5 separate regions of the Homo sapiens genome follow, and all the other regions are linked to region 1. Evidence: fine-mapped expression QTL. A gene starts in region 1. Each other region holds a variant in brackets. All regions are shown on one strand. Distances are between the middles of the regions.

What was found.
Region 2: its variant is fine-mapped to the expression of MAGEC3 in breast (GTEx, PIP 0.98).
Region 3: its variant is fine-mapped to the expression of MAGEC3 in spleen (GTEx, PIP 0.98).
Region 4: its variant is fine-mapped to the expression of MAGEC3 in thyroid (GTEx, PIP above 0.99). The same link has a PIP of 0.9 or more in breast and left ventricle.
Region 5: its variant is fine-mapped to the expression of MAGEC3 in tibial nerve (GTEx, PIP 0.99).

What each region holds. Positions count from the first base shown.
Region 1 is chrX:141,835,183-141,840,291 of GRCh38, reverse strand. It overlaps MAGEC3 (MAGE family member C3), which reads right to left and starts at 1,976. Exons shown (of 8, transcript NM_138702.1): 1 at 1,854-1,976. The coding sequence starts at 1,976.
Region 2 is chrX:141,433,950-141,439,058 of GRCh38, reverse strand. No RefSeq gene overlaps it. Among named protein-coding and RNA genes, the nearest start is that of SPANXA2-OT1, 66 kb to the left of the region's middle. The variant G/C (reference allele first, on the strand shown) is at 2,598.
Region 3 is chrX:142,094,297-142,099,405 of GRCh38, reverse strand. No RefSeq gene overlaps it. Among named protein-coding and RNA genes, the nearest start is that of MAGEC2, 110 kb to the left of the region's middle. The variant T/A (reference allele first, on the strand shown) is at 2,477.
Region 4 is chrX:141,877,178-141,882,286 of GRCh38, reverse strand. MAGEC3 (MAGE family member C3) reads right to left here. Exons shown (of 8, transcript NM_138702.1): 3 at 2,856-3,112; 4 at 491-884. Among named protein-coding and RNA genes, the nearest start is that of MAGEC1, 24 kb to the left of the region's middle. The variant C/T (reference allele first, on the strand shown) is at 3,178.
Region 5 is chrX:141,703,491-141,708,599 of GRCh38, reverse strand. No RefSeq gene overlaps it. Among named protein-coding and RNA genes, the nearest start is that of SPANXD, 7.3 kb to the right of the region's middle. The variant A/G (reference allele first, on the strand shown) is at 2,211.

The DNA.
Region 1 (5,109 bases):
TAATTAGAAAGACTATACTTTTGCTGTTAACTTTCTCAGAGGTAAAATATCACTTTTCTTTAGTGGTTTGTGATGCTATGAATGAATACTTTCCAGGTTGGGTATTTCCTGGCTGTTAAATATCAGTTAAGTTTTGGCTGACTTCACCTCCATCTATCAACCTCCCTGCCAATCATTTAACAGCTATAGAATAGGTCTCCTCACACAAATCCTTCAGGAAGAATTTCCATTGTGCACATTCTGACCAGAAGAAAAAATGCAGCAAATTTTTGGAAAGTGAATCATTTTTAGAGTTCTGAGCAAATTATGTTAAACTCAGGGTTTCTCACTGTCAGCACCATCACATTTTAGGCAGTATAATTCTTTCTTGTGTGAGGTCGTCCTTTGTCCAATAAGACGCTTAGAAGCATCTCTGTCTCTGCTTATTAAATACCAGTAGCATTCCCTGCTGCCACCAATTATGACAACCAACAATATTTCTAGATATTGGCAAGTATCCCCTAAGTGGCAAAATCTCTTCCAGTTAAGAACCACTGAGTTAAGAACAGTAAGTAATGATCCAGGGAAAATGGATATAAAGATATTAAAAAGCTAGTAAAGCATTTGACATATTAGAAATGCATATAAACAATTCATATTTATAAAATAAAATCTACTGAAGATATAATGAATAAACACTTGTTTTGGTGAGCAAGCTTGGGATTGCAGCTGTGGGCCTGGAAGTGGTAGGAGCTGCAAAGCCTGCCCAGGATTAGCTGTAGCCAGAGCCGGCAGCCAAGACAATAGCAAAGATCAATTTGACCTCAAGATATAATCAAATATGACAGCAGAGTGAATGAAGCTTTTATTTTGCTCCGTTCTTCTCCATAATCCTTCTTATGCCCATAATCATTATAATTACATAAAATATTTAAAAACCTTTAAAAATTATTTCTTGGAAACCATGAATATGGCAGACTAGAGGCATTTTGTACTCACTTTCTCCATTAAAAATAACCAAACGGTGAGTCGATAATCACACTTTGAATATATAATTCAAAGGAAATCACTGGAATCCATTAGAAAAGTGATAGGCAATACTTAAAGCAGAGATGGAGAGGGAATCAAGGCAGCCTGCTCATCCAGGATCAGCTGTGAGCTGAGAGACTCCAAATACAGAGAAAGGATAGGTGAGAGAGCCTCAGTAGTTTACATTCTCACTATAGACTCCTATAATCCCAGCCACAGGAGATCCCTTCAACCATCATGGGCCCCGAAACTAACATAGAAAGCTGCCAGGAGATTGTATGATGGCACTGCTTCAGGGAGAAAGCTCCCGCTGGGTCCCTCACACTTCTTGAGACTTAAGCAGCTACAACAAAGTACCATTTTAGAGCCCTGCCCTCAACAGACTGAGCACTGTCCTGGAGCCCAGTAGCCCAGGGCTGAGGTGCAAGAGAAGCACGAACTGCTGCCCCAGGGACATAGGCATCAGTGACTACAGACTACAGCATCTGGTGCAGAGGTGGGACGAAGGCGTGGGCTGCTGCTTTTAGGACTGAGGCACAAATGAGGCACCACTGCAGAGCCTCACCCCCGATGAACTACATACTGTCCTGGAGCCCAGTGGCATTGAGGCCTAGGTGCAAACTAAATGTCTGATGTTTCCCTGGAGATTCAGACATGAGCGACCACAGGCTACTGCAACCAAGGGAAAGACATGAACATCAAGGCTGGGCAAGATAGCATCTTAGAGCCTCACCCCCAACAGACTGCACACTGTCTTGGAGCCAAGCAACACTGAGGCTGAGATGCAAAAGAAGAGCTGGCTGTTAACCTGGGGCTTAGACATGAGCATTCATGGGCTACCACACCTGGGGCTGAGGTGGGAGCACCACTGGGGATAAGGCATATGTGGCACATGTGTTTTTCACCCACTGGCCTAGACTGCCATCACTGAAGGTGGCATCCAACACCCAGTGGCAGGGCAGCAGCATGGCCACTGCCACCCTGTCTTTACCAAAGAGATAGAGACCATAAAAAAGGAACGAACAGAAATTCTGGAGCCAAAGAATGCAGTGAATAAACTAAAAAATACACATGAAAGCTTCAACAATATACTCAATCATAACTGACTTATGTTAAGATCACATTTTGCTTGAAGACAGTTTTTTTTGAAATAACGCTGTCAGACAAAAATAAAGAAAAAAAGAAAATAATAAAATAAACCTTTGGAATCTATCTAACAACATAAAGTGACCAAATATAAAAATCACTGATAGCCCAGAAGGCAAAGAGAGAAAACATGTTTTCAAAGACCTATTTATTGAAATAATAGATGACACTTCCTAAGTCGAGCAAGACACTTAGACATTGAGATACAGGAGGCCCATCAATTCCTAAACAGATACAATGTGAAAAGGTCTCTTCCATAGCACATTACAGACAAAATATTTAAAGTTTTTTTTTTCTTTTTTTCCAAGATGGCAGATTGGAAGCATTATAAGCATACTTATCCCACTTGGTAAGACAAAATGGCATGTAGAGATTCATGCTGTAAAATTTATTCGAAGAAACAATGTAAGAACTTAACAGAAAAACTGAAAGAAACCACAGACCCTTTGAATGAAGTGGCAGGCAACAGACTACATCATAAAACAGATGGAAAACCATTAGTCCCCAGAGCATGAGAGAGGGATAGATTGCTGTCATGACATATACTCCCACAGGCGAGCCAGGCAATACAAGTCATGAGGGAGGACTTCAAACCTACTCAGCTCTAGAGGTGATTCAGTGAAAAGTAAGGAATATATAAGAAGGAGCAGCATCGGGACATGCTTTGTGTGCAGACCCAGATTCCAGCAAGAATGGAGGGAAGCCATTCCTGATCCCACCTCACGGGACGTTGCAGAAGTCTAACTCAGGCTGCAGTCACAGTTTGAGAGAAGAGCCCAACTGGGATTTGTGATATAATCCTTAGTAAGGACAAAGCTGATTGGCCAGAACCGAGGGGCAAGTGAGAAGTGTGCTACGGCAACAAGGCACATGAGCTGCATGGCCCTGCTTCACAGGTGGACTGGAAAGGATGCAGCCTGAAAGATATGGTTTCTGTGTCCATAGGGAAAGCTTATGGCCTGGGATGGTTTTAAATTCTGAGCACGGGCCACTTGAAACCCAGTTAGCTGCTGCTGCTAGCAGAACACTGTGGGTATGAAAACTGACTTGCCAAGTGTGTGGGAGCTGAGTGGGGCTTATTACAACCTGCTGCCTCCCACTTTTCAGGCAGATTTTTTGTGCAGCAGAGGCAGCTGTGTTCCTGCCTGGAACATTACCCCACCAGCCAGGGAACTGCCCTCGGATCCCCACTGGGGCCACTGCTTGCACCTGCACATGGGGAGCCAGAGTGCAGACTTGCCTGACTCAGTTTAATAACTTCTGAGGCACAATGAAATCATCCCAATGCCTCCATGTTCAATTTCAGGCACTAACAAGTCCCTGAGGTATTAAATGCATTGCTTTTCTGCGGTCTTGCCACCTTCAGGAGCTTACTAAGAAAATGAAGAAGAGCCACGATCACTCCTCTCAATTAGCCTCTTCCCTTGGCTGAGAAATGTGTTTCCGGTCTTGAGAACACAGAAGTTTTGCATTTGCTCATGAGAGATCTGAAACCTTCTGACACTGCCCTGCATCTTTTCCATTCCCTCTAAATAGAGAAGACTCTTCTCCTGTCTCCTACCTTCTGCTCTGACATCCATTCACTAACACCTAGGCACAAAAAGCCTAGTTCACCCAATGGCAGAAACGGCTAAGGTGGGCCTCTTCCAAGCTATGAACAACATTTCAAAGCTTAAGTCCCTACCCTCTTCCAACACAATGTCCTTTTCATTCCTCTAGCTCAGTAGTGCTCAGATTGGGGGTGATTTTGCACCCCATCCCAAGAAGACATTTTGCAGTCTGGAAATATTTTTGGTTGTCACAACTGGGATGGCTCTTGGTGCTATCGGCATCTATTGAATAGAAACTAGGAATGCTGCTAATCATTCTAAATTCAGCAAGATGACACCCCCTCAAAAAAGCCCACAGAACTATCTGTCTCAAAATGTCAATAGTAATAAAGGTGAAAAACCCTGTAGCTCATTCCTTAATAGGCCACCCAAAGAGATTTTGGATGTTTTCATTTATAAAATTATGCATATATTTTGGCAAATCAACAGCTGTTTCTCACCACTGATGGTTAGACAAGGGAAAGAATAAGGAGACTGATATTATAATGAGCTCATTCTATGCCAGGTACAGTGCTCAATACTTCAGATTTATATTATCACATTTAATCTGTTAAAAATGTCCCAACATGTAGTAACAAGAGTTATTTTTATTTTACAAAGTTAAAAGAAAACTGAATTTTGAACAAATTGAAAGATCGATTCAGATTACAGCATCTGTAAATGGCAGAGCAGAAACTTACTATTAATGATCGCATGGCTTCAGAGCTGATGCCAGCCATCTCAATCTCACAAAGATCTCCGCATTCACTCATCTTTTACCCTCAAGCATTGTCTTACGTAGACATTCCTGACTTATTCCAATGGAAAGTCAAAAACAGAAATTTGATATTCAACAAGGAATATTATGTAGGATTTTGCTGTTGTTTCCTGAAAATTTTTCAATATACTGAATAAGCTATGGGAAAGCAAGCGGAAATAGTGTTGGCTTATAAAACCTCTCACCCTGTGACTAACCAAAATGAACAGAAAGGATTCATCAATGCTGAAACTTGAAACAAAACTGAGTCTTAATCAATATAATTCTTGAGGTATGATTCAGATCCAGTATAATTTGGCCCAGATTGAAAGAAGACTCAAAAATCAATATATAACCCCTATCACTACCTTGGTCCAGATATTCCAATTTGAAGAAGCAAGGAAATTAGACTTGAGCAGATCTGGAGGAAGTGTAGGCTGCACTGTGTGGAGCTTGTTTCTCCACTGCAAATAAGCATTCCTGAGAAACTAAATGCTGGACAAGATGCAAAGCCATACAACCGATGTGATTGCCTCCCTAACTACCTGCCAACCTGTAGTTTATCTTCCTTCTAAACAGACAGAATATCAGAGAGAAGTAGAAGCAATC
Region 2 (5,109 bases), 400 kb after region 1:
ACTCAAACAAATTTGCAAGAAAAAAACAATCCAATCAAAAAAATGGGCTAAGGACATGAATAGACAATTCTCAAAAAAAGGCATACAAATGGTCAACAAACATATGAAAAAATGCTCAACATCACTAATGATCAGGGAAATGCAAATCAAAACCACAATGTGATACCATCTTATGCTCACAAGAATGGCCATAATCGAAAAATTTTTTAAAAAATTAGATGTTGGCATGAATGTGGTGAACAGGGAACACTTCTACACTGCTGGCAGGAATGTAAACTAGTACAACCACTATGAAAAACAGTGTGGAGATTCCTTAAAGAACTAAAAGTAGAACTACCATTTCATCCAGCAATACCACTACTGTGTATCTCCCCTGAGGAAAAGAAGTCATTATACAAAAAAGATATTTGCACATGCATGTTTATAGCAGCACAATTCACAATTGCAAAAATGTGGAACCAACCCAAAAGCCCATCAATCAACGAGTGGAAAAGAAACTCTTCTGTATATATATGTGATAGAATACTACTCGGCCATAAAAAGGAAAGAATTAATGGCATTCACAGTAACCTGGATGGGATTGCAGGCTATTATTCTAAGCGAAGTAACTCAGGAATGGAAAAGTAAACATCGTATGTTCACACTCATAAGTAGGAGCTAAGCTATGAGGATGCAAAGGCATAAGAATAATACAATGGACTTTGGGGACTAGGGAAAGTATGGGGAGGAGGCTGAGGGATAAAAGACCACAAATTGGGTTCAGTGTATATGGCTCGGGTGATGGGTGCACCAAAATCTCACAAATCACCACTAAAGAACTTACTCATGTAACCAAATACCACTTGTTCCCCAAAAACCTATGGAAATAAAAAGTTTTTTTAAAAAAGAGTTGCAAGCATTGTGGCTCATGCCTACAATCCCAGCACTTTGGGAGGCTGAGGTGGGAGAAACACTTGAGCCCAGGAGTTCAAAACCAACCTGAGCAACATAGTGAGACCATATCTCTACAAAGTAACTTTAAAAATAGCCTGGCATGGTGGTGTACACCTGTGGTCCCAAGCTACTTGGGAGGCTGAGGTGGGAGGATTGCTTGAGCCCAGGAGGTGGAGGCTGCGGTGAGCCATGATTGTGCCACTGCACTCCAGCCTAGGAGACAGACAGAGTGAGGCCTTGTCTCTAAATAAATAAATAAATAATTACATGGGGTTTCTTATGATTGTTTATTTTTAGTTTCTCTTCTATGTCTCCCTTAGTATTTTAGTGGGAATTTGGCAGAGACACTTTCAAAAGATTCTGAAAACAAGTAATTCAAAACCTAAGGTGTTGGAACTCTAAATTATTTTGAGCCTTAAAGGTACGTGATTATGGGGTCTGAGTCATGTGACAAGCAGCTATAACCTAGACAGTTGTCACCTTTCTTTCTGTGATTATAGATTAAATCTTCTTCCTTACCTGCATTGTTTTGTAAAATGTTGTAAATGACTTAAGAATGCCAGGAAAGACCCTATCCCTCTTCACTTAATTTTCATTATAGATTAACTTCCCTCTTATCTTTCTCACACAGGGCTTCATGACTACCACACTGTCTTCAGATGAAATGTTAAATACACTGTTTTAAATTGGAAAGGAAATGAAAACCAGCCGTAATGAAAAGAAAACAAGCCTTATGGGAAGAAAGCAAACTGTTACTTTTTGTAATTCTTAAACCAGCCTTTTACAGAAAGTGTTTCAGTCTTATTAAATTTCTTTGTTTTCTGCCAATATAAGCAAGAACTCAACTTTTAATTTTGGAGAACTGATCCCTTTTCTCTGGGGTCTGTGTGTACCAAATGGTCATTTCTAGGTTTTCAATCGAATAAACTCTTTAGAACTGGATTCTGATCTTTTTGATTACTTAAAGTTGACAAGGTATATAAATGGGTAACATTTTGAACAAAATGTGAGAAATAGGCTGTTAAATGTTCTCCTCAAGTTCTCCTATGTTTTTACTCTCAAATAACACACTCTATTCCTCCAAGGGAGTTTGAGAAAAATAGATGCATTAAAATTTAAGCTTTAGATAACTTTTACAGAAGAATTAAGAACTTCTTCTTAAATATAAGAAAATATAAGAGAAATATCAAATGGTAGCACTTCATTCTGATTTACCTCCTATAAGCCTTTCAAATTTATTCATGTGACCTTTTTTATCTGAGTTAATAAATGTTCAATTTGCTTTAGTGAATAGATTCTATTGAGTTCATTACTGAAAATTGTACTTAAAATACTGATATATTAATTAAAACTTTTTGGTTTATAGATGGCAAAGAAGCAACTTGAATTAGTTTAGGCTGTAAATATACTACATTGAAAGAAAATAGAGGAATTTCTGAGAGCTAATAAAAGCATATATTAATTAAACATGGTAGCAACAAGGCTTCAGAACAACTGGCAGCAGAAGTTTTGTTCTGGCGGTCATTTGATTTTCTCTCTACATCTGGTTATCGTTTTCTACCTTATACTGGCTTGCTTTATTTATATAGTGGAGAGCATAGTATCTCAAATTTGGGATCTCAGACCCCAAATTTCACATATTATAGTTCCTATTATCCAAGAGG[G/C]ACTAACTCCTTACTCAGGTTGGAAATATTCTAGAGAAGGACTATCATCTTATGGAATTGGTAGGGCATGTGAATTCAATATTTCCAATTAATCATCAATCATCGTTATTTAGGATAAAGCAGAATTGTAGGAGTTCTCTTAATTATGTATTTTTTGACCTCACAGACTTAGAAACACAGGATTCTGTTTTGGCAGAACACAGTAGTAAACACCAAAGTTGGGGTACAACTCTGTGCAGAAGTGTCTTGTAAATAAAGAACGTAAGTCATTTTTTTTTAATCTGGAGTGGCAACAAATCAAGCCTGTGAAATATTGTTTTTTTCTTTTTTGCAAAACTTGACCTGTCAAGAGCTGAATTTGAAGCTAATCATCAATGATGCTACTATATTGTGCCCCAATAATAGTCAATTATAACAGATTTCAGGAGATGTTACATATTGATGACATGATAGTCATGATAACTTTAGATAAACGCTTCAGGAAATTTCACATTGTACTGTTCCCTAATAAATATAAGCTATTACTGTCAATAGTGATCAAGGAGAAATAGAAAATGAGAACTTTCAGTTTCTCTTTTTTAGATGATGGTATTCTTGATGTAGAGACTTTGTTTAGTCACATTACCTGCTATGTTTTATTCAGCCATCTGTACCCCACATTGTACCATGTACCAAGGACCCTAGGTATAATATCGAATAAAACATAGTTTTAGAATTCAAGGTCTTTAAAATCCAGTGTGGGTTATTGGGCAGCTCCTTGGGAAAAGTTGGTACATAAGGAGTTTATGGTTGAATGTTCTATTGCATGTATTTTTATTGTTCACCATAAATTCATGGGAAACATTGTATTTTCTAGATTCCCTTTCAGTTAGGTTACAGTTACATGACTGGACTCTGGCCAATGGAATTTGTATGGAATTGACATAAGCCTATTTTAGGACTGGCCCTTTAAATTTTCAGAAGAAGATGACTTGACTTCATTTGAACTGTATGTTAATGATGAATATAGTTTCATTTTGTTAAAACACTGCCTATGCCAGAAGATCACAAAGTGTGTCCAAAGAACATTGGTATGGGGTCCCCAAGATCCTTTAACAAGACCCACAAAACAACAATTATTTTCATCAAAATTCTAAAATAGTCTTTGCTTTTTCCATTAATTTTGTCATGAGTTTACAGAGAATGCTCCAGAGGCTACATGACCTGTAATAACATCAGTGCCCTTAAGGCTACTGGAATGTGTGCTTGTGTATTCTGTTTTCTAGAACTTTAGAATGTAGTATGTTTAAGATGTAAATATGCACTTCAGAGATAAATTCCATTTGTTCTTGATGCTTCTTTTCTATTACTACATATCTTTGGGTTATACGTGCTCTAATCTCTGTAATTTCAGAATCGTGCATTAAATTAAATTTTTAAAAAATTTTCATTTCTCTTGGGCCTAAGGAGAAACACAACTGGAAATGGATATATATTATTGGGTTTTTTTGGCAATATATTAAAATTTTTTTTTAATTACTTTTTAAATTTTGTCTAAAGTTGTTACTTTATAACTTAAACCATATGGTTTACTAAAACAAAATATATTTATAATTTCTTATATTTAAAGATACACTCTTGCCTTAAAAAGAAAGACTAGAATTCCTTTCTCAGCTTACAATGTAATATGTACACATAAAGATGCTGAAAAAAATATTAAGCTGACATTCTAGATAATTGCCTGTTTTAGGGAAGAGAATAATCTACTCCAAAGAAACGGTGAAAAACTAATAAGACAAAATATATGATGAAAATTTATTTTCTTCAGTCTTATATGTGGCAATAAATTATCTTAGTTTTTCATATGCAAAACATTTTGAATAGTGTTATGGAGTCTGCTAAGTTGGAGCATGATTTTGAAACCAATAATTTAAAATTTTTATAAAGAAGTATGTTGTAGTCATTTATGATGGATAAGGTCTAATTTACATCACCAGGGCTATAGTTAATATTATTTTGTACTGTGTCTAAGAAATCTGAAAAGAGATTACATTTTAGGTGCTCTTACTACACCTACACACACGCACTCTCAGACAAAGGTTACGCTATGTGAGAAGACAGATATGCTAATTGGCTTGACTGTAGTAATCTTTTCACCATGTATATGTATATCAAAACATTATATTGTACACCTTAAATATATACAATAAACATAAAGTTAAAAATAAATAAGGCATTGTATATTTTAACATAGACATGATAAACTATTTAAAAGTCAAAAATTGCTTATTACAGACTTTTAAAACATAAATGGAAAAGCCACTAAAGGATTTTATAGGGAAGTTCCTTGTGTTTTATTGTCTGGAGAAGTACACACAATTTTTTACATTTCACTTTGCCAAATACCTGCTCAATGAAAAGTCAGTAAAAACAATCATGGTGCTGCCACTTTCCAAACACATAGTCACTCATTGTCTTAAATATTTAGTTGCAAACATTAAGACTGAGTTAATATCTTATCTTCAGAAGTGTA
Region 3 (5,109 bases), 260 kb before region 1:
CAGAGAAGCCTCTGTATTAAAAAGGATATCATCTTCATTTTAAGCATCATTTGACTCTGGGGATGTTCGTTGTTCCTCTATCTTAAAAACCACTTTTTACAGTATTTATACTATCCTGACAATGCAACAGTGACCCTCATCGTTCTTTGCGTTAGCTCCTTTTAGGCATTCTGCTTTTTCAAGCTAAACTGCTTGTGGGATTCCATCTGTTTAGTAACATTTGGTATATAATTAAACTAGAAAAAAAAAGACAACCTGGGGGAATCCCTGGGCAAAGTTTAACTAAATGCCCTTTTCCCATTCCATCTCTTTAAAGAAGTTCAGGAAATTAGATGAGAAACTCTGATCCTGTTGCTTTCTTTAAAGGTTGGAGAGTTTTACTTCTTACTAGAGTCTCCAGTTGTAATAAGGCAGATTCTTAAGATAGGGTGATATCTCCAAGAGTAAGTCCATCATCACTCATCTGAGTAACACTCAGCCAGATAGATCATAAGCTTTGAAGCAAAGATCTGGATTTAAGTCTTGCATCTGCTGTTTACTTGCCATGTGTTATCAAACCTTACAACTCCGAATATCAGTTCCATATGTAAGATGGAAATAATGTCCTATAATAACCTTCTAGAAGCCTTGTGAGAATCAACTCAGGATAAAAAAAAAATGTAAAGCAACAGCAAAATGTTTGGCGTGTAAGAGGCCAATTAATATTAGTTGAATATATAAATGCAATAATGACTCTGGAAGGTAGCTATTGTAATTCTCACTTTACAGATGAATAAACAAGTTCAGAGACATTAAGTTACTTGTCCAAGGCCACACAGCGCTCAGGCCTTTAACCAAAGTGTTATACCCTTGACCTCTCTTTTCTCCTCAATCCTGTCCTCTCCCCAAATCTAACCCATTAGCAAACCTGCCCTAAAATTTGTTCTAAAATCCTGATATTTGTCATCATCTCTGCTACAATCATCCTATTCCAAGTCTCACACATTATCTCTCATCTGTTTATTTCAACAACCTCTTTTAACTCTTGGTTTTAACTCTTACCTTCTCTGGTATCTGTTCCCAATACAGCAGATGGGATGATCTTTTTAAACCATAAATCAGGCCACGCCAGTTTCCTGCTTAACACTAGACAATGGCTCCCATCTGCACTTAAAATCAAATCCAAACTCCTTAGCAGAAGCTTCAGGACTCTGTATTATCAGATCTTTGTCTGTGCCTCTAATTTGGTCTCTTACTACTCTTTCACCTTGTTCACTGTTTCAATTTCACCAGCCTAATTGCCGCTTCTTATGCAGCCAAAATGCTTTCCTGCCTCAGAGCTTTTACCATTCCTCTGTTTGGAAGGCACTTGTACCAGAACTTCCCAAGGTTTACCCTCATCATTCAGGTCTCTGATCAAATGTTACCTCTCCAAGAGGCCTTCTCAGACCACCTTACCTGAAACAACATCATGATCACACTCAGTCCTTGACTCCTCACCCTGCCTTATTTTCTCTCTAGCGCTTACCACTATCTAAAATTACTGTATTTACTCCATTTTTTACTTGGTTATATTCTGCTTCACCTTACTCCCAAAAGATATGCCTCTTTCATGTAAAAAAGACAAAACAAAACAAAACAAAACAAAAAAACAGAAACAAAAAAAAGTCATTTAAGTGGAAGGGTGAATTAGCAAAATATATTTTGGTTTTTAAGATCCCAGTCTAATCATATGAGTCCTTAAAAGGTGACAACTTTTCCTGGCTGCAGTCAGACATATGTGGAAACAGAAGAAGGGTCAGAGAGATGTGATATTGCTGGCTTTGAAGATGGAAGAAGGGGAGCCACAAAGCAAGGAATGCTGGGAGCCTCTAGAAACTAGAAAAGGCAAGGAAACAGATTTTCCCCTAGATACTCCAGAAATAAACCCAGCCCTGCCTATGCTGCGATATCATCCCAGTGAGATTTGTATCAGACTTCTGACCTACAGAACTATAAAATAATAAATTTGTGCTCCTTTAAATTGCTTTAAAAAAAGGATTAATTAGCAAAACCATTTGATCCCAGACAACTGATGAGTTTCCCACTGTAGAAACAATACAAAGGCAAGCATTTTTACAAGCATTCAAACCCTCAGGACACCATTTAGCAAAGAGAAAAATCATCCAACCTTCTGCTCACTCAGGAATCAGGGGTAGGAATAGCACGGTTGATTTCCTCTCATTTTAGTGATTAGTTGTAAACTTTTCTCCACCAAGTCTTTTGTCAAAGCTACTAATAAGAAGCCAAATTGACTCATTTGATCTTAACCTTTTCTCTCCAGCCCTGCGCAGTGCATATTGAAGGTGCTAATGAACAGCAAACTGGCTCAGTGCACAATCACAGGAGGCCAAAGGAGAAGCACGGCAGAGCAGAGATTCCTGAACACGTTGGCTAATGTGGCTTGTATTTCTTACAAAATTTCTTGTCTAAAAACACAAAGATGTAAGGTTTGGTT[T/A]ATTTATCCCTGAATATCTGCTGATACAGGGAGATGACCAGCCTAATAGGAATTAGCAAGAAATGGAGAAGTGGCTCAGAAGCAGCCTAACCACCTAAATGACAAAGGAAATCAAACTGTTCAATATTAGCATCAACAGGCTTCACACCTAAGTAAGCCAGGGCTTCACCAATACTTTAGTAAGGGAGGGGTGTTGTTTATATCAGTCTCATACTGCTGTAAGTTCTGTGTGTTATTGTCATTACTGTAGACATATAAACTGCTTAGTAAATAATATAATGTATTTCGTAATGATTTGTTTACTTAACTAATTCTGAAGATTAATTCATCCAGTGGCTGAAATCACTCCCTAGAGTGGGTATATAACACTGGCAAAATGCACTCTCACAATTCAAGCCATACCTGAAGTTCACAGTAGCTGCAGAGAGCTGGGTTTATCCTATGAACCTGGGATTGGAGCTCTTCTATCAGCCAGAATATTTTGCAATACTGTTTGGCATAGAGACAAACATGCTGGAAGACTGTCAAAGGGAATTTTCTCACCAATAGGAGTATTCTTTCATATATATAGGAAAAAATGGCATGGCTTGTTTGTTTATAAATCTCATACTGCTTGCCACCACTTGAGCAGTAATTCTGAAAAGTGAAATGTTGGTGAGCATGTAATTCATTTGGAGCTCTGAGTTTTCCCATTTGGTGGCATACAGTGAGCAAAAAAAACTAACAGTAGGTCAGACTCTGTGCTGTGTTGGCAAGACATCCTCAGCGCCCCAGATTTCACTCCCAGTGTGAGATTTACACTGCACGGCAGCCACTGCAATGCACCTCTTTTTGCATTTCTATTTAAACAAGCGTTTGGATAAATGCTCTGATGTCACCGCTCAAAATAAAGATTGCTGCAAGACCCAACTGCAAGGAGTTGTTTAACATTCTGTGCACATACCCCTGCAAAGTCAGCACATTCTCAAAGTGATTTCATAGCTCAAACCTTCATTGTAAGAGAACAGTTAGGTCCCCCACATAAATTGGCTGTCTCTGGAGCATTTCCTCTTGGTCCCTAATTTGTCATGTTACAGAATTAGAGCGCTGTGTCTTTACTTCCCAGGCCAGTATGCTCATCTGTTCCAAGGATGTCTATCTTGCTAGTCATCAGTGCTTTTGTCCTATGAGAGTGTATTCTTATTGTCCACCAGTGAAGTCATGGTTCTTTAACTGAGGATAAAAATTTACCTTTTTATTCATCTACACTTAATTACACACTACAACACATAGTCACAACAATAGCTATTCTTTTAGGGCCTCTACTTTATGCTAGGAGCCAGAGTTGTGTACATAATTCACGGGGTTCAGTATGAAATGAAAATACAGGACCTGTTCAAAATTATTAAGCATTTCAAGATAATGACAGTAGAGTATTAAATCAAATGCTGAACCCTTCTAAATGCAGGGCCCTGTGTGATTACTCAGATAATGTGCCCATTAACCATTCCTAACTCCTCCCAGACTCCCACTACGCTTCCCAGATTCTGGTAATGATTCTTCTACTATCTATGTTCATGGGTTTAATTGTTCTGATTTTTAGATCCCACAAATAAGACCTACTATTTGATAGCACAATAGGGTTACTATAGTCAATAATAACTTAATTGTATATTTAATAATTTAAAGAGTGCAATTGGATTTTTTAAAAATTCAAAGAATAAATGCTCAAGGGGATGGTTACCCCATTCTCCATGATGTGCTTATTTCACATTGCATGCCTGTATCAAAATACCTCATGTAACCCATAAATATATGCACCTACTATATACCCACAAAAATAAAAAAAAATTAGAAGATAATGTGCTTATAAGCCAGCCCTGCTAAAAGTGAATTTATTTATTTATTTATTTATTTACTTACTTATTTTTTGTGGCTATATAATACCGGCACATATTTATGGACTACTTGTGAAATTTTGATATGAGCATACAATGTGTAATGATCAAATCAGGGTAATTGGGATATCCATCATCTCAAGCATTTATAATTCTTTTATGTTAAGAGCAACCATTTTTACTTCACTAGTTACTTTGAAAATGCAGTAAATTAGTGCAAACTATAGTTACTCTATTGAGCTATCAAAATTAGATCTTATTCCTTCTATCTAACTGTATTTTTGTACCCATTAACCATCCCCTCATATTCCCTCTCCACACTACCCTTTCCAGCCTCTGGTAACTATCACTCTACCTTCTATCTCGATGAGATCTATTTTTAATCTCTCATATATGGTTAAGCACTTGTGATATTTGTCTTTCTGTCCCTGGCTTATTTTGCTTAACATAATGCTTTCCTGCTCCATCCATGTTGTTGCAAATGACAGGATTTCATTTTTTATGGCTGAATAATATTCCATTGTGTATATGTAAACCAAAATTATCTCTGTTTTCCAAGGATGGAAACCAAACTCAGTGAAGTAACACGTCAGAAATTACACAGCAAGAAAGGGATAGTACCAGGCGCATTGACTCAAAAACCTATCTTCTTCCTATTATAGTAAAGGTTAGCAAACTATCGCTTACAGGCCAAATCTGTCCACAAGCTAAAAATGGTTTTTACATCCCTCATTTGTTAAGAAAAACAAAAGAAGT
Region 4 (5,109 bases), 42 kb before region 1:
ACGAGGTAAATCTATCTCTCCCATATGGAACAGAAATGCAAAGAACACTGTATTGTTCCCTCAAGCCCCACCCGGGCCCTCCACTACCTAGGACCCTGACTGCCCTCTTCAAACACAGACGTAAGAAACGGCCCTATACTTCACTCAGGACAGGAGAAGTTTCTGGAGATGACACGGAACCTTGCACTGGCCATGGCAGTAGCATCATTTTTGGTGTCAATTATGGCCTGGGCTCTGTCTTCCACATCTTTCAAAGCATCCTTGGAAGAGATTGGAAAGGAACTAGAGACGGTATTGTTTCACATGACCAAAATCTCACTACTTTCCTCTTGCTAGTTTCTGAATGGGCTCTAGGACCCCACAGGAATTCATAACGTGGAGGAGCACTACTGGGCACATGTCGCTACTCCAGGTAATGTCCCTGCACTCAAACTTTAGTGACAAGCTCCCTGGGCTCCCGATAGACGAAATGCTCCCTCTGAGCACACACCCCTATTGCATTCAGCACTTCCCAGATGACCTCCTCAGATGCACAGTTGCCCTTTATGAAGATCACACTCAGAATAAGAATCAGGAGGCGGTTCTGGGGCATGCCCTGCTCATCACTCAGACTCCCCTCACAGGTGAGGTCTAATGTGTTTACAAAGACATAGAAATGGTCGGGGTCCACTTCTGTCAGGGAAATGCCAAAAAGAATCTCTATGAACTCACGGGCTTTCCTGAAGATCATAGGAAAGTAGCCCGTGTATGTGTTGATGACATTCATCTGCATCTCTGCTCTTGTGAGAGGCTCTTTTGCTTGATATTTGAGGAGAAGAAACTGCACCAACTTGTCCACCTTTTCATCCAGTGTATAAGTGAACAAGGGCTCGCTCTCTGGCAAGCTGTGCCAGGTACTTGTATCTTCATCTTATTGGCTGCTAGGCTCTTCATTGAATGGGCTTCATAAAGTGGAGGAGGAGCAGGACAGGGAACCCTGGAGAGGACCCTGGGGAGGACTCTCAGGAGGATTCTGGGGAAGAGGCAGCATCCCAGCAGACAGCTACTCCTCCTCCTCCTCATGAGCACCAAGAATCAGAGTAGAGGATGAGGAGGAGGAGGAGGAGGAAGAGGAGAAAGAGGAGGAGAAGGAGGAAGAAGAGAAGGAAGAGGAGGGGAATAATAAGTAGAAAGAGGAAGAGGAAATGGAGGAGGTTTTCTCCTCTTCCTCCTCTGTGGAATCCTGTGCATCTGCCAAGTTCTCTATCACAGTTTGGTTCTGGAAGTCTTTCTCAAAGTTGCCGCTAGGAACATTTCAAAACACAGGCATAACGTCTTCCTTAGGAGCAGGAGGTAAATGTGTGAGCAGGGATGTGGATGATGGCATCCAACAGGCCTGAGGGAGAGAGGGACACTGCAAGTGGCCTCAGCTGAGAAACTCACCCATGGTGGTTCTGACAAAGGCCGGCTTACAGCTCTTCTTCTCTTAAGGTGGTGCTCTAGGGCCTCACGGGTCACCTGCCATCCTAGGGGGTTTGTCCCCTGGGAACCTGTAGGAGGATGTGAGAAAGCACCTCGGGGCACAGCTGGCAGGCAGAGCCTGAGGCACCAGGAATGGCAGTAGGTGGCTATGGCCAGGTGCTGCCAGGTCTGCTCTGTTTGTGGGGGTAGGGCCCTTGGTACACAGTCAGGGCGTGCACTCACCTTGACTCCTGATATTGCCTGGGCCTCCTCTGCTGTGCTGACTTTAGGAAGTGTGCCTCAGACCCAGGTCTTCAACTCCTGGTTCCTGGAGCACCTGCAAGAGGAAGTGAGGGAGCCCCTCAGGCTAAAGACTGCAAGCAGAGTCTTGGGCCTCCCAAGGCTGACAGCTGGGGCTGACCAGACTCCCAGAGCCCCACAGTTCTGGACTGCATGGTCCCATCAGAATTTAATTAGCATCCTCACCTTTTCTCAGACAGGGCCATGTCCCTACCACTCTTCTAGCCAAAACTCAGGGCAAACTCCACATCCCTGAGAGCAGTGGGAGGTAGTGAGGTGGCAGCCACCTCCCAGCACTCTACCACGGGGGCAGTTGGGCTGGCCTCACATCTGTTCTGATGCACATGTGACTCCTCAGTCCTCACTCTTATCCCCAGCAGGGCCTGGGAATCTTCCCTCTGCCAACTGGAGGCAGCTCCCTGTGCTGATTTGCCACGGGACCCTCAGACCAAGGCCTTCCCTTTCCCTGCACCTCTCACCCAGCAATGAGAGGGCTGCCGCTCAGCCTGAGCTGACTGGGGAGCTCTACGAGGGCTGATATGGAGGAGCATGCTGGGAATCTCTGGGAGTCTGTCCTCTGAGGTGGCGTTTCCCCTTGTCCTTCTCAAAGTCTTCCTATTTATTCCCTAGAGAGCTGGCACCTCCTCCCTTCTTCTGTCATGAAGACGTGTCCCTCAGCCCTCGGTTACCCTCTTCCTGTCTGCGACCTACAATCTCACAGCAGGTAGAGGGCAGGCAAGAGCTTCTTCTTTCTGTGGTGGGAGGTCCCTCAGTTCTCCCTTAGGGCCCTTACCTTGAGGATCGGCCAGTTCTAAGAGTCTTCTGTCTGCTGATCTCAATTAAGCCTTCTCACAAAATGCCTCAAATACTTCAGACTCCCAGTGGGGCTAGGTCTCCTCTCTATGGAGGAACCACCCCTCACCTCTCTACCTCTTTCCCACACTTTCCTGACCACCTCCCGGCCCTTCTCCACCCCTTCCTGCCCATCTCCTGGGCCCCCTCCACCCCTTCCTGCCTACCTCCCCGACCCTTTCCACCCCTTCCTGCCCACCTCTCGGTATCCCTCCACCTTTTCCTCCTCACTTCAAAGCCCTCGTCCATATTTCCCTGCCCACCTCCCCGCTTTCTCCCCCCACAACCTTTTTCCAGGGCTGACGGCAGGAAGGGAAAGGGTGTAGCCTGTGCCTCTCCTCCATGTTGGAAGGTCACTGTCCTTCCACAGAGTTCTCTTCTCGTTGAGTGGCCAGTCCTGGGGTTCCTCCCTCTGCTTAACTGAAACTGCCCTCCTCAGAGAAAACTTCCCCTCCGGCTGACTCCCAAAATGCAAGTCAGAAAGTTGTAAACCTGGGGACCCTGATAGGGTCCTCCAGAGCTGGCAGCAGGCACAGGGACAGGGGAGGGGCACTACCAGTCATGGGTGTTCCCTTCCTGCCTTCC[C/T]GAGAGGCTGTGCCTGGACTCCTGGAAACCGCCTGGCCTTCCTGCCTCTGTGCAACTGAGTCTTTCACCTCCGAATAAGCCCCTCCCATCCCTGAGACCTGCAAGGTGCAAGAGAGGGAGAATCACATCCACCCACAGTGGGGTGGGGCCTCCCAGGCCCAAGGCAGGACTCTGGTGTCCTTTTTCTAAAATGGGGTGGGCAGGACTCTCTGTTTTCCTGCAGTTATTATTCCTGACATGGCCTGGGAGCCCTTCCCCTGCTGTCCAGAGACTATGTTCTTCAGATCAAGGTCCCCATTTCCATGAGACGCCCCCCAAGACGAAGTGAAAAGCGCTAGCATCTCTGACTGAGGGCCCTGCCCAAGGCCTCCCAGGGGTGAAAACAGGGCCTGGATTTGTGTGTCCTTCTGTTTCTTGGGAGGGGTGTCTCACCAGTCCTTCCTCTGTGTCATCCTGGGGATGCCTGGAAGGGCCTGAGTCCCTTCACCTCTCATGATCTGAAGTGAGACTCACCTAGGCAGAGCCTTCTCCTCTTTCTACCCTCTAAAATGTCAGGGGGACACCACAGTGGGCCACCATGCCCCAGGGCCTCCCAGGGCTGACAGCAGCAGTGGAGCTGGATTCTGTGGATCCTTCTCTTTGTGGGCAGGGAGTCTTGCAGTTATCTCTCAGAGGCTTCATGTGACTACTGGCTGGTCCTGGGTCTCCCTGTTCTTCTCATGATGACAGTATAACATACGGCAAAAAATAATGTAATTTTACCCTGAATAAAGCTAAAAAGCACGATGATGCCATGGTAATCAAGTTAACATCATCAGTGACAAATTTTGTTGGTACTATGTGCTGTCGGTATGATAAGAACGGCACTTCACCTCTCTGTTCATCCTTCCAGGAAACATTACCTACATCAAATCATGACAGAAAAAAATCACATAAATCCCAGTCAAAGTCAATTTTACAAAATACCTAACCATACGAAACTGTCAAAACTGTCAATGTTTTCAAAATCGAGAAATGTCTCAATCAACCGGTACAGCCAAAGGGCATCGAAGGAACATGATAACTAAATGTAATGGAGTATCCTTAGGGGATCCTGGCATAGAAAATAGAATTTCGTGAAAAGTAAGAAAATGTGACTGAAGTATGTTCAATAATAAATAAAGAATGTTTGTTAAAAACAATGTACAAATACTGGCTCATTAGTTTTAGGAAACCTTACCAAGGTAAGGTGTTAATAACAGGAGGCATTGAGTGTGGAACATATGAGAACTTTCTTACTATTGTTATAATTTTCTTGTAAATCTAAAATTATTTAAACATAAAGTTTATCAAATATGAAAAATGTTACCAAACTAGATAAAAGGATATGCATGAAAAACCTACAACAGATACATCTTTTAAGGAAATGTTGGAAGCCTCTAGTTTGAACTTGAGACCTAACCTAGAGTTTCTGCTACAAGTACTTCTATTACTTTTTATACTAGAGGTAGTAGCCAGTGTAGTAATCCAAAGAGCAGTAAATGAAGGAATGAGGATTGGCCAGTTGGAAACAAAGCGTTTGTGATTCATGCATGATTAGACTGTGCATGAAAAGAATCCAAAACAACTAAAGATAATTTATTCAATATATAATAGTATATCAGTTTGCTAGTATAAGGTCAATATTCAAAAGAATATCAACTTCGTTTTTTGTCAGGGAAAGAGTATGAAAATGAAAGTAAAGACTATATAATTTTAACCTATAGTACCAAAATATCAAGTATCTTAGGAAAATAATTTAACCAAAAACATTTTAACCAAATAAGACTGGGAGGCAGCTGATGGCTGGTTAAAATATTTTTTGGTTAAAAAAGCTTAACCAAAAAATTTTTACAGACAAAAATATTAAAATGCTGTTGAGGCATATTAACAAAGACCTACCTGAACATAAAA
Region 5 (5,109 bases), 130 kb after region 1:
GGTCTTCACAGCAGCCCCTCCCAACACAGACCTGGAGGCCTAGAAGGAAAACATGGTTTTGTGGGCCAGATCCAGGGTCCCTGTGCTGTGTGCAGTTTAGGGACTTGGTGCCCTGCATCCCAGCTACTCCAGCCATGACTAAAAGAGGTCAAGATGCAGCTCAGGCTGTGGCTTCAGAGGGTGCAAGCTCTAAGCCTTGGCAGCTTCCACATGGTGTTGAGCCTGTGGGTGCACAGAAGTCAAGAATAGAGGTTTGGGAACCTATACCTAGATTTCAGAAGATGTAAGGAAATGCCTGGGTGTCCAGGCAGAAGTTTGCTGCAGGGGTGGGGCTCTCATGGAGAACCTCTACTAGGGCAGTGTGGAAGAGAAATGTGGGGTTGGAGCCCCCACACAGAGTCCCTACTGGGGCACCACTTCGTGGAGCCGTGAAAGGAGGGGCACCATCTGCCAGACCCAAGAATGGCAGATCCACCGACAGCTTGCACCGTGTGCCTGGAAAAGCCACAGACACCCAACACCAGCCTGTGAAAGCAGCTGGGAGGGAGGCTGTACACTGCAAAGCCACAGGGGTGGAGCTGCCCAAGACCATGGGAACCCATCTCCTGCACCAGCGTGACCCAGACGTGAGACATGGAGTCAAAGGAGATCATTTTGAAGCTTTAATATGTGACTCCCCTACTTGATTTTGGACTTGCATGGGGCCTGTAGCCCCTTGTTTTGGCTAATTTCTCCCCTTTAGAGTGGCTATATTTACCCAATTCCTGTACTCCCATTGTGTCTAGGAAGTAACTAACTTGCTTTTGATTTTACAGGCTCATAGGTGAAAGAGACTTGCCTTGTCTCAGATGAGACTTTGGACTGTGGACTTTGAGTTCATGTTGAAATGAGTTAAGACTCTGGGGGACTGTTGGGAAGGCATGATTGGTTTTGACATGTGAAGACATGAGATTTGGAAGGGCCAGGGGCATAATGATACAGTTTGGCTGTGTTCCCACCCAAATCTCAACTTGAATTTCCACATATTGTGGGAGGCGCCTGGTGGGAGGTAAATGAATCATGGGGTCAGGTCTTTCCCATGCTGTTCTTTTGATAGTGAATAAGTCTCATGAGATTTGAAGGCTTTATAAGGCAGAGTTTCCCTGCACAAGCTCTCTTTTTGTCTGCCGCCATTCACATAAGATGTGATTTGCTCCTCCTTGCCCTCTGCCATGATTGTGAGGCCTCCCCAGCCATGTGGAACTGTAAGTCCAATAAACCTCTTTTTTTAGTAAAATTGCGCAGTCTCAGGTATGTCTTTATCAGCAGCATGAAGATGGACTAACGCAACACTCATTTTTCTCCCTGCTGCCATGTGAAGAAGGATGTGTTTGCTTCCTCTTCTGTTATCATTTGTAAGTTTCCTGGGGCCTCTGCAGCCATGCTGAACTGGGAGTCAATTAAACCTCTTTCCTTTATAAATAACTCAGTCTTGGGTATGTCTTTATTAGCAGCATGAGAACGGACTAATACACATACCAATAAATTAAGTTACAAAATGTCAAAATGTCTATAAGTTTAAATACTTCATAATGTAAAAATATAGATGAAATAAACATGTAAAAGAAATCTCTAAAGGCTATCATCCCTAAGATAAAGAGCAAAATAAAGATGTTTACTTACACCACTATTATTTCTCTTTTCTTTTGAAGTTGCGGCCAATAAAATAATATTAATAATGGCAGCAGCAACAAAAAACCCTTTATAGTGCTTATTATGTGATAGGCATTGTTCTAAGCATTTTGTCTAAATGAACTCATGTGATTCTTTGATGGTCCAAATCACCTTGTGTGGTAAGTAACTGTCTCTCAGTTTTAAAGAAAGTTGAGGTTAAGAGATGTAAAGTATCACAGCTGGTAAGCGGTGAAGCCATATTAAAATATATGAGCTCTAGTTCCTATAAATAAATAAACAAATGAATATACACATATGTGTAATAACAATGTGTAATTCCTTATAAGATATGTAATTATCTGTAGATTACATTCTTATATACCGAGAAAACGTGAGAAAATTCATTCTATATCTTTTTAGAACTAATTAGAGGTTCAGTATGGTAAAAAGTGGGCATATTTATTATAGTAAACAACAACAGAATGTATTTAGGAATAATCAAAGTAAAAATTTCTATTTTATGTAAATGTAATTATAATTTTTATTCTGTTCCAATC[A/G]AAATATTATTTAAAAATAAACTGGCAAAAGGACTCAAAGATATACCTGGAATAACAGGTGATACTAAGATACTTTTGATAAAGACGAATGAGGGAAGACCGGTCCCAACATCAATGCCATTATAAAGATAGAAAAAACAAAACACTTGGTATTGGCAAAGAGCAATAGCTAAAAGGAACACAGTACAAAGTCTGGATTTAGACTCAAGAATATATAATTTAGTATATGATAAGGCAGCATTTAAAATAAACACGGTCGTATCAAATTGGCATGTAATGTACCCCATCTTGAAACTTGCTACTATCTTGGCTTGTGTGTGGATAGCATATTACATTAATGCCGAGCAGATTAGTAACGCCGAAGTAGCTGGCGCCTAAATGGCTTAAACGCGGAGAAACCACCTACTGATGATGGAACAAAAACTGACCAATCAGATTATAGAGCGGGCTTTTTAAAATTTAAGAAGCTTCTTTGTAGCTAAACCAATAAGAACAAAGACACAACATACCAGAATGTCTGAGACACATTCAAAGCAGTGCGTAGAGGGAAATTTATAGCACTAAATGCCTACAACAGAAAGCAGGACAGATCTAAAATTGACACCCTAACATCACAATTAAAAGAACTAGAGAAGCAAGAGCAAACACGTTCAAAAGCTGGCAGAAGACAAGAAATAACTAAGATCAGAGCAGAACTGAAGGAGATAGAGACACAAAAAATGCTCCAAAAAACCAATGAATCCAGGAGCTGGTTTTCTTAAAAGATCAACACAATTGATAGACTGCTAGCAAGACTAATAAAAAAGAAAAGAGAGAAGAATCAAATACACGCAATAAAAAATGATAAAGAGGATATCACCACTGATGCCACAGAAATACAAACTACCATCAGAGAATACTATAAACACCTCTATGCAAATGAACTAGAAAATCTAGAAGAAATGGATAAATTCCTCGACACATACACCCTACCAAGACTAAACCAGGAAGAAGTTGAATCCCTGAATAGACCAATAACAGGTTCTGAAATTGAGGCAATAATTAATAGTTTACCAACCAAAAAAAGTCCAGGAATAGAAGGATTCACAGCCAACTTCTACCAGAGTTATAAGGAGGAGCTGGTACCATTCCTTCTGAAACTATTCCAATCAACAGAAAAACAGGGAATCCTCCCTAACTCATTTTATGAGGCCAGCATCATCCTGATACCAAAGCCTAGCAGAGACACAACAAAAAAACAGAATTTTAGACCAATATCCCTGATGAACATCGATGCAAAAATCCTCAATAAAATACTGGCAAACGGAATCCAGCAGCACATCAAAAAGATTATCCACCATGATCAAGTTGGCTTCATCCCTGGAATGCAAGGCTGCTTCAACATACACAAATCAATAAATGTAATCCAGCATATAAACATAACCAAAGACAAAAACCACATGATTATCTCAATAGATGCAGAAAAGGCCTTTGACAAAATTCAACAACCCTTCATGCTAAAAACTCTCAATAAATTAGGTACTATTGGGATGTATCTCAAAATAATAAGAGCGATCTATGACAAACCCACAGCCAATATCCTGCTGAATGGGCAAAACCTGGAAGCATTCCCTTTGAAAACTGGCACAAGACAGGGATGCCCTCTCTCACCACTCCTATTCAACATACTGTTGGAAGTTCTGGCCAGGGCAATCAGGCAGGAGAAAGAAATAAAGGGTATTCAATTCGGAAAAGAGGAAGTCAAATCGTCTCTGTTTGCAGATGACATGATTGTATATCTAGAATACCCCATTGTCTCAGCCCAAAATCTCCTTAAGCTGATAGACAACTTCAGCAAAGTCTCAGGATACAAAATCAATGTGCAAAAATCACAAGCATTCCTATACACCAATAACAGACAGAGAGCCAAATCATGACTGAACTCCCATTCACAATTGCTACAAAGAGAATAAAATACCTAGGAATCCAACTTACAAGGGATGTGAAGGACCTCTTCAAGAAGAACTACAAACCACTGCTCAACGAAATAAAAGAGGACACAAACAAATGGAAGAACAGTCCATACTCATGGATAGGAAGAATCAATATCGTGAAAATGGCCATACTGCCCAAGGTAATTTATACATTCAATGCCATCCCCATCAAGCTACCAATGACTTCCTTCACAGAATTGGAAAAAACTACTTTAAAGTTCAAATGACACCAAAAAAGAGCCCGCATCGCCAAGTCAATCCTAAGCCAAAAGAATAAAGCTGGAGGCATCACGCTACCTGACTTCAAACTATACTACAAGGCTACAGTAACCAAAACACAGATATAGCATGGTACTGGTACCGAAACAGAGATATAGACCAATGGAACAGAACAGAGCCCTCAGAAATAATACCACACATCTACAACTATCTGATCTTTGACAAATCTGACAAAAACAAGAAATGGGGAAACGATTCCCTATTTAATAAATGGTGCCGGGAAAACTGGCTAGCCATATGTAGAAAGCTGAAACTGGATCCCTTCCTTACATCTTATACAAAAATTAATTCAAGATGGATTAAAGACGTAAATGTTACACCTAAAACAATAAAAACCCTAGAAGAAAACCTAGGCAATACCATTCAGGACATAGGCATGGGCAAGGACTTCATGTCTAAAACACCAAAAGCAATGGCAACAAAAGACAAAATTGACAAATGGGATCTAATTAAACTAAAGAGCTTCTGCACAGCAAAAGAAACTACCATCAGAGTGAACAGGCAACCTACAACATGGGAGAAAATTTTTGAAATCTACCCTTCTGACAAAGGGCTAATATCCAGAATCTACAATGAACTCAAACAAATTTACAATAAAAAAACAACCCCATCGACAAGTGGGTGAAGGATATGAACAGACACTTCTC